Homo sapiens: one gene and its partner. The protein of the gene in region 1 purifies or fractionates together with the protein of each later gene. This does not show direct contact. Each region holds a gene or a part of one and is shown in the gene's direction. Other genes may lie near its edges.

Evidence for each region.
Region 2: the proteins of RAP1A (region 1) and PCTP fractionate together in Homo sapiens (co-fractionation; one large-scale study listed by BioGRID). This does not show direct contact.

What each region holds. Positions count from the first base shown.
Region 1 is NC_000001.11:111,626,289-111,629,788, forward strand, and holds part of RAP1A (ras-related protein Rap-1A precursor), read left to right. Parts: intron 1-1,181; exon of another isoform or gene 1,182-1,275; intron 1,276-3,500. UniProt on the Homo sapiens protein: Counteracts the mitogenic function of Ras, at least partly because it can interact with Ras GAPs and RAF in a competitive manner. Together with ITGB1BP1, regulates KRIT1 localization to microtubules and membranes.
Region 2 is NC_000017.11:55,764,551-55,768,050, forward strand, and holds part of PCTP (phosphatidylcholine transfer protein), read left to right. Parts: intron 1-2,784; coding exon 2,785-2,902; intron 2,903-3,500. UniProt on the Homo sapiens protein: Catalyzes the transfer of phosphatidylcholine between membranes. Binds a single lipid molecule.

The sequences.
Region 1 (3,500 bases):
TAAGAATTGTTTGCTTTACTGCCTGTTTTACTTCAGTCCAAGACTTATTTTTTGTAAATAGCTTTTCTGCATATGTATACATACACACACACACACACACACACACACACACATATGCATGTATATACACACGTTGTAGGGAAGTTGTTTCCTGGTTCAGCTAGCAATTTCAATTCTCTGTTTAACGTCAGAAGTTGTTTTGTAGAATGGGATGTTAATATTTTTTTCTACACTGATTAAAATCATCCTTTGCCACTAAAGTCAAGTATCTGCTAGGACAGAAATGTGCAAATAGCATGCGTAAATGTGCATTTTTAGTGACTGTTGTTAGCTTGACAGTTTTATTTTCAAGATCCTCTTCTCTCCCGACCTAATTAATTATGATGTGTTTATAAGGCAACAATAATATATTTAGTTAGTTTGCAAAATGAGAACAATTTTTCTGGTTTTTCCATTTTTGCATGTTTTGAGTTTGGATTAATTGGACTTGTATTATTCTCAGTAGACATATATAATAAAATAGTCCATTTAACTGTGATTCTTTCTCTTGGAACATTGGCTGACTTTTAGATAGTGAGCCTTGTGCAGTTTCATAAATACAGGTACTACTGAGTTTTGGATGACATTCTTTACACAACCTAAAAGTAAAGGTGAGCATAATAGAAGCTGGAAACAAGCTGCTGGGCATAATAGAAGCTGGTAACAAGTCTGACGTTTTCTTTGCACTAGGAAATGTATTTCTTATTCCAAGTAATATGCCCTTGTTAGGTTCAGGATCTTTTTCAGTGGTTATAACTGCTTAAACATTTTTTTTTCTGTTTAAAGTAATTCATGTTATACTGTGGCAAATTTTGAAAAAAATGTTAAGTGTAAAGAATAAATTGAAAACATCCATGATCCTATCATCCAGAAAAAATTACTACTGATACTTTAATATACATTTTTCCAGTTTATTCCTTGCATGTACGGATTTTTTATTTATTTTTTTTACGAAACTTAGAATTATAACTTTATATATACTGTTTTGATCATACTTTTTTTTCCTGAATGGGATGTTGGTCTCCTAGTTTGAGACTTTAAAGTTGATTCTTTATAATATTACTGTTTTAAATAACACTGGGACAGACATTTTTTGTACATGTATCTTTGATTGCATCTCTGTTTTTTTTTTCTTCCTGTAGGATAGATTCCCAGAAGTGGGATAACTGGATCAGAGGGTGATTACCCTGTGTATAAGAGTATGTGTCTCACTGCACCTTCAATGGCATTGAGTAGGTCAGTTTTTACAATCTTTGCCAATGTGATAGATATCTGTTACATTCTTGGGTGGTAATAGCAGAAATCCTCATATTATTAATAATCTGTAAAACCATCATAGTGTATGAAAGAAATTTGCAATTGTCCTGAAATGAGTTTCTTTAAAAATATTTTAGGTAAAAGTAATCTGTGACCAAAAAAAAAATTACTGATTAAAGTTGGAATTTCAGCATTTTTTTTTTTGGAGAGCTAGAATTTTAATGTTCTTTTATTAAAATGACAAACATGAGAAAGCTTGTTTTATAGTATGTAATAAATATAAATATTATGTAAAACTAAATTATTTCAGATAGATGAGGGGGGTAGTCACATGGTTCTGACTTTGAAAAAACAAAAAAAAAATCTGTGAATGTTTAGAGCAGTAGCTCTGGAGTTGGGCAGCCTGGGTTTGTGTCCTTGCTTTGCCACTTACTAAGTACATGATTGGAGGCAACCTGCTAAATATGTGTATGATTTGATTTTTCTGAACCTTGGCTTCCTTATTTTTATAAAAGGAGAATAATATCTACCCCATAGGATTGTTGAGAGGATTAGAATAATGTGTAAGACCACTTGGCACATAGGTATTTAATAAAAACTAGCTATTTTCGTTAAATTTGTTTTTTCTGCCAGTCTCCTCAAGGGCAAGAAATATCTCATTTTTGTGTTTCTGTTTACATGAATAAATACTGAAATGCAAATGGGCTGTGGTGAGCAGTGGCAGCAGGAGGGGAATGGTGGACATTCTTTGTGGTAGGAATGGCATGTGCCAAGATAGAAAGAAAGTTCAGGAGAAGTTGGAGGACAGGTGATTAATTTGACAGAAGCCTAGGCTTTTGTATAGTTAGAAAATATGGAGATAAGGGAGAATTATGGAGATTGGGGCTAGACTTTTAAGCCATTGAATGCTACGTTGATAAGTGTAGACTTTTTCAGGAGTACAAGCTTTGGTATGTGGAAAATGACTTGATAAAAGCATTCATCGAAAAGCAGATGAATTCGCTTGTAGAGTAAAGAATGAATTGAGGAAGGAAGAGGTTGAAGACAGGGAATCTGGATTAATAGTAACACAGGTAAGGTAAGATCTGAGGGTTTAAAGGAAAACAAAAGGGAGGGTTTTGGAGGAAGTGCTTAGGCTTCATGTTTGTGAAGATCTGTACAACCAATTTGGAGATCAAATTCAAAAGAAACAGCCTAGGCTTACATGCAGTTAGGCAGCCTTTGAGAGAAGATGGGACTCAGTACACTTTGGTTGTTACTATTGTTTTTTTAAAAATTGAAGGATAAAACATTCCAAGATTCCTATCATTTCGTCAGTAAAAAGCATATATTTATGCTTTTAAAAATATATATGTACAATCTCCTGCAGTAATTTTATTTAGTTAGCATTTTGAGTTCTTGGTTAACAGGATATCCTCGCTTTTAGACTTTGTATTTCTGGAGCTATTACCTTAAAACTCTTCACTGTAAGGTGAAATTCTTCTGCATGTGGTTTTTGTAGCATTTGTGATTGCTGCAGGACTTTAAAAAAACCAGTCGTGTGAGCAGAGGTGATGAGAAGTGAAATACAGACTTCTTGTTTGTTAAGCAGCTTCTAAGTAAAATATAGGAGCAAAAAAATGGGAAATTGTGTGTATGATGTTTAGAAAAACATTACTTTTAGTGTTCCTGTTTTCTCTCTCAGCCCTGAATTTTCCTAATTAAAAAAAGAGAGTTTGCAGATGCCATTTTTAGTCATTCTAGAACCTGACTAGAGCTCTACTCATACTTTCCACTTGACTGAATAATATAAAGCAAGTTAGCCAGAGATTGATATTAATAGTATTTCTTTTTGACTGATAAGTAAACTCACATGAACTGTGAATTGTCTGCTCGGTATCTTCCAATGGAGAAAAGAAGCAACCACCAATTTAAAAAAATACAGGCTTGTGATACTTATAAGGTGTTTGCATTTTTTAAAACAGTGAGTTATCATACCTTTCTTAATGTTTCTTTTAGTTTCCAAATACTGCCTAAATTCAGAAATAAAGTACTTATTATTTTTATTCAAATCTCTTCCCTTTAAAACTATCCTTGAAAATATTTTTAAATTAATAAGCAAATGTAACTCACAGTGCTCGTAGTGTTGGGGATTGTGTGCGTGTGACTTTTTTTTACAAATACTGTGTTTTTCCTGTGTGAATCTGCAAAAGCCCAGATCTGGT
Region 2 (3,500 bases), on another chromosome or scaffold:
TCACATGCTTTTAGAGCTGGAAGATTCTTATGGATTCATTTTCAATTTTACATTCATTTTTTGCCAGGTACTTTCACATACATCTGAGATTCCTAAACCGGGATGTATTTATCCCTAGGTTATACCACCCAAGCTAGAAGACCCTTAAAGCTTCAGGATCTCTAGAAAGATTCAGCATGTTTATTCCTTGACTTCCCCTCAGGCCATGGCACAGTGTTTACAGAGAGGGCTTCATTCATGCATGATTAACCAGTAACACGGCCTTAGCACATGGATGCAAGAGTTCATCCAAAAGTTTATGTTCGTTCATTTGTTTCTTTGCCTTTGTGTTGAAATTAATCTAATAGCCATTGCTTTAATTTTAATAATAGAGCCTTTAGGCAAAGCTGAGGGTCAGGAATTGTAAATTGCCACCGTACAGAGAGTGAAATGTGTGATGGGGCAACTCTAGGCCAGGACCCTCATGGACAAGAATATGGCTTACCAAGGAAACAAGGGAACTCTCTTGTACTTTGGAATCTAGAAAGGCCTTTTCCCAAATCAAAGGAACTTATATGATTTGAAGCAGATTTCTTTTGTTTTTCATTTTCAGTCTTTTATACAGAATCAAAAAGAAGCAGTTGTTGAAAAATTCTGTCTTGGAATTGATAAAACAATGTGTTGGGTTTCACTATGCCACATGGCTATTTAAAATATAACCTCTCTCGAGAACTGTAGCTGCCTATGTGACACCCTTACTTGGATGCTTAATAAACATCTTAAACTCAACTTGTTCAAAAGAGAACTCTTAATTACCCCAAAAGCCCACCAATCACCTCTTCTCCAAGTTTTTTTTCTGTCTTAGAAGATGGCATTCCCATCTGCCCAACTTGGGTTATGAAAGTTATCCTTGATTCTTTGCTTTCCCTTTCCCCAGGATCTATCAGGAATTCCTTTTTACTTTACCTCCAAAATATATCCTTAAATCACTGACTCCTCGCCATCACTGTTGTTACTTCCCTGTTCAAATCACCATCATTTCTTATCTGAACTATTGCACTGGTCTTCTCACCCATCTCCTTGTTCTCTGATGATCTATTTTCTACCAAGCAGCAAGAATCACCTTTAAAAAATTAATTTGATTGCGTCATTCTTAAACTGAATTACGAATCAGATCTGGTCATCCCTCTGTTTAAAGCCATCCATTAGTTTTCCATAGCAATGAGAATAAAATCTTTACCTCTTACCCTGGTTTACAAAGTCCTTGGGGTCCAGCCCTGACAAACTCTCTAACCTCAGCTCCTGCCACTCTCTCTTTTATCCAGAGTTCTCCAGACCCCAGGTTCTTTAAAGATGCCAGCCCACCAATCTGAGGACCTTCCTTCTACCAGGAACGGGCTTTTCCTATCTTCCTATGGCTGGCTTCTTCCAACATTTGGAACAAGATGCTCTGATAAATGTTAACTCTCATAGAGGCCTTTCCTGATCACCTGATTACATAGATGTCCTCCCCATCCCCGCCCTTGCAAGGCATCATTTATCACACAACTCTTCTTACCCTATTTAAATTACCTAGATGGCACTTATAGCTATCTCTAGCACTGCTGCCTACCTGAATTTAAGATCTCTGAGAGCAGGGCCTGCACCTGCTTTTTTATCATTGTGTCACCAAGACCACAGAGGAGGTCAGTGTTTGGTGTGGCATGAACGTCGTCATCAGCTGCTTTTCTTTTTTTTTTTTTTTATTATACTTTAAGTTTTAGGGTACATGTGCACAATGTGCAGGTTAGTTACATATGTATACATGTGCCATGCTGGTGTGCTGCACCCATTAACTCGTCATTTAGCATTAGATATATCTCCTAATGCTATCCCTCCCCCCTCCCCCCACCCCACAACAGTCCCCAGAGTGTAATGTTCCCCTTCCTGTGTCCATGTGTTCTCATTGTTCAATTCCCACCTATGAGTGAGAATATGTGGTGTTTGGTTTTTTGTTCTTGTGATAGTTTACTGAGAATGATGATTTCCAATTTCATCCATGTCCCTACAAAGGACATGAACTCGTCATTTTTTATGGCTGCATAGTATTCCATGGTGTATATGTGTCACATTTTCTTAATCCAGTCTATCATTGTTGGACATTTGGGTTGGTTCCAAGTCTTTGCTATTGTGAATAGAGCCGCAGTAAACATATGTGTGCATGTGTCTTTATAGCAGCATGATTTATAGTCCTTTGGGTATATACCCAGTAATGGGATGGCTGGGTCAAATGGTATTTCTAGTTCTAGATCCCTGAGGAATCGCCACACTGACTTCCACAATGGTTGAACTAGTTTACAATCCCACCAACAGTGTAAAAGTATTCTTATTTCTCCACATCCTCTCCAGCACCTGTTTTTTCCTGACTTTTTAATGATTGCCATTCTAACTGGTGTGAGATGGTATCTCATTGTGGTTTTGATTTGCATTTCTCTGATGGCCAGTGATGGTGAGCATTTTTTCATGTGTTTTTTGGCTGCATAAATGTCTTCTTTTGAGAAGTATCTGTTCTTGTCCTTCACCCACTTTTTGATGGGGTTGTTTGTTTTTTTCTTGTAAATTTGTTGGAGTTCATTGTAGATTCTGGATATTAGCCCTTTGTCAGATGAGTAGGTTGTGAAAATTTTCTCCCATTTTGTAGGTTGCCTGTTCACTCTGATGGTAGTTTCTTTTGCTGTGCAGAAGCTCTTTAGTTTAATTATGTGGAATGCAGCTTTCTCTCAACTTGGGAACCAATAGACATTTCTACCTGTTCTGTTTTTATAGAAGACTGGACTTTATGAGTATAAAGTCTTTGGTGTTCTGGAGGACTGCTCACCAACTCTACTGGCAGACATCTATATGGACTCAGATTACAGAAAACAATGGGACCAGTATGTTAAAGGTGAGTGATGCTTGCTTTTCTTTTTTTTTTAGACGTACTTTCACTTTTGTAGCCCAGGGTGAAGTGCAAAGGTAGGATCTCAGCTCACCGCAATCTCCGCCTCCTGGGTTCAAGCGATTCTCCTGCCTCAGCCTCCTGAGTAGCTGGGACTACAGGCGCCCGCCACCACACCTGGCTAATTTTTGTATCTTTAGTAGAGACAGGGTTTCTCCATGTTAGTCAGGCTGGTCTTGAACTTCTGACCTCAGGTGATCCGCTTGCCTTGGCCTCCCAAAGTGCTAGGATTACAGGCATGAGCCGCTGCACCCAGTGCTTTTTTTTTTTTTTTTTTTTGATCATTAAAAAGTAGATCTATTCTGACCAGATGCAGTGACTCACGCCTGTAATCCCAGCACGTGGGGAGGCTGAGGCGGACAGATCACTTGAGGCCAGGAGTTTGAGACCAGCCTGGCCAACATGGTGAAATCCCGTCTCTACTAAAAATACAAAACTTAGCTGGGCATGGTGGCGCATGCCTATAGTCCCAACTACTTAGGAGGCTGAGGCACTAAGAATTGCTTGAACCCAAGAAGCAGAGGTTGCAGTGAGCCAAGACTGT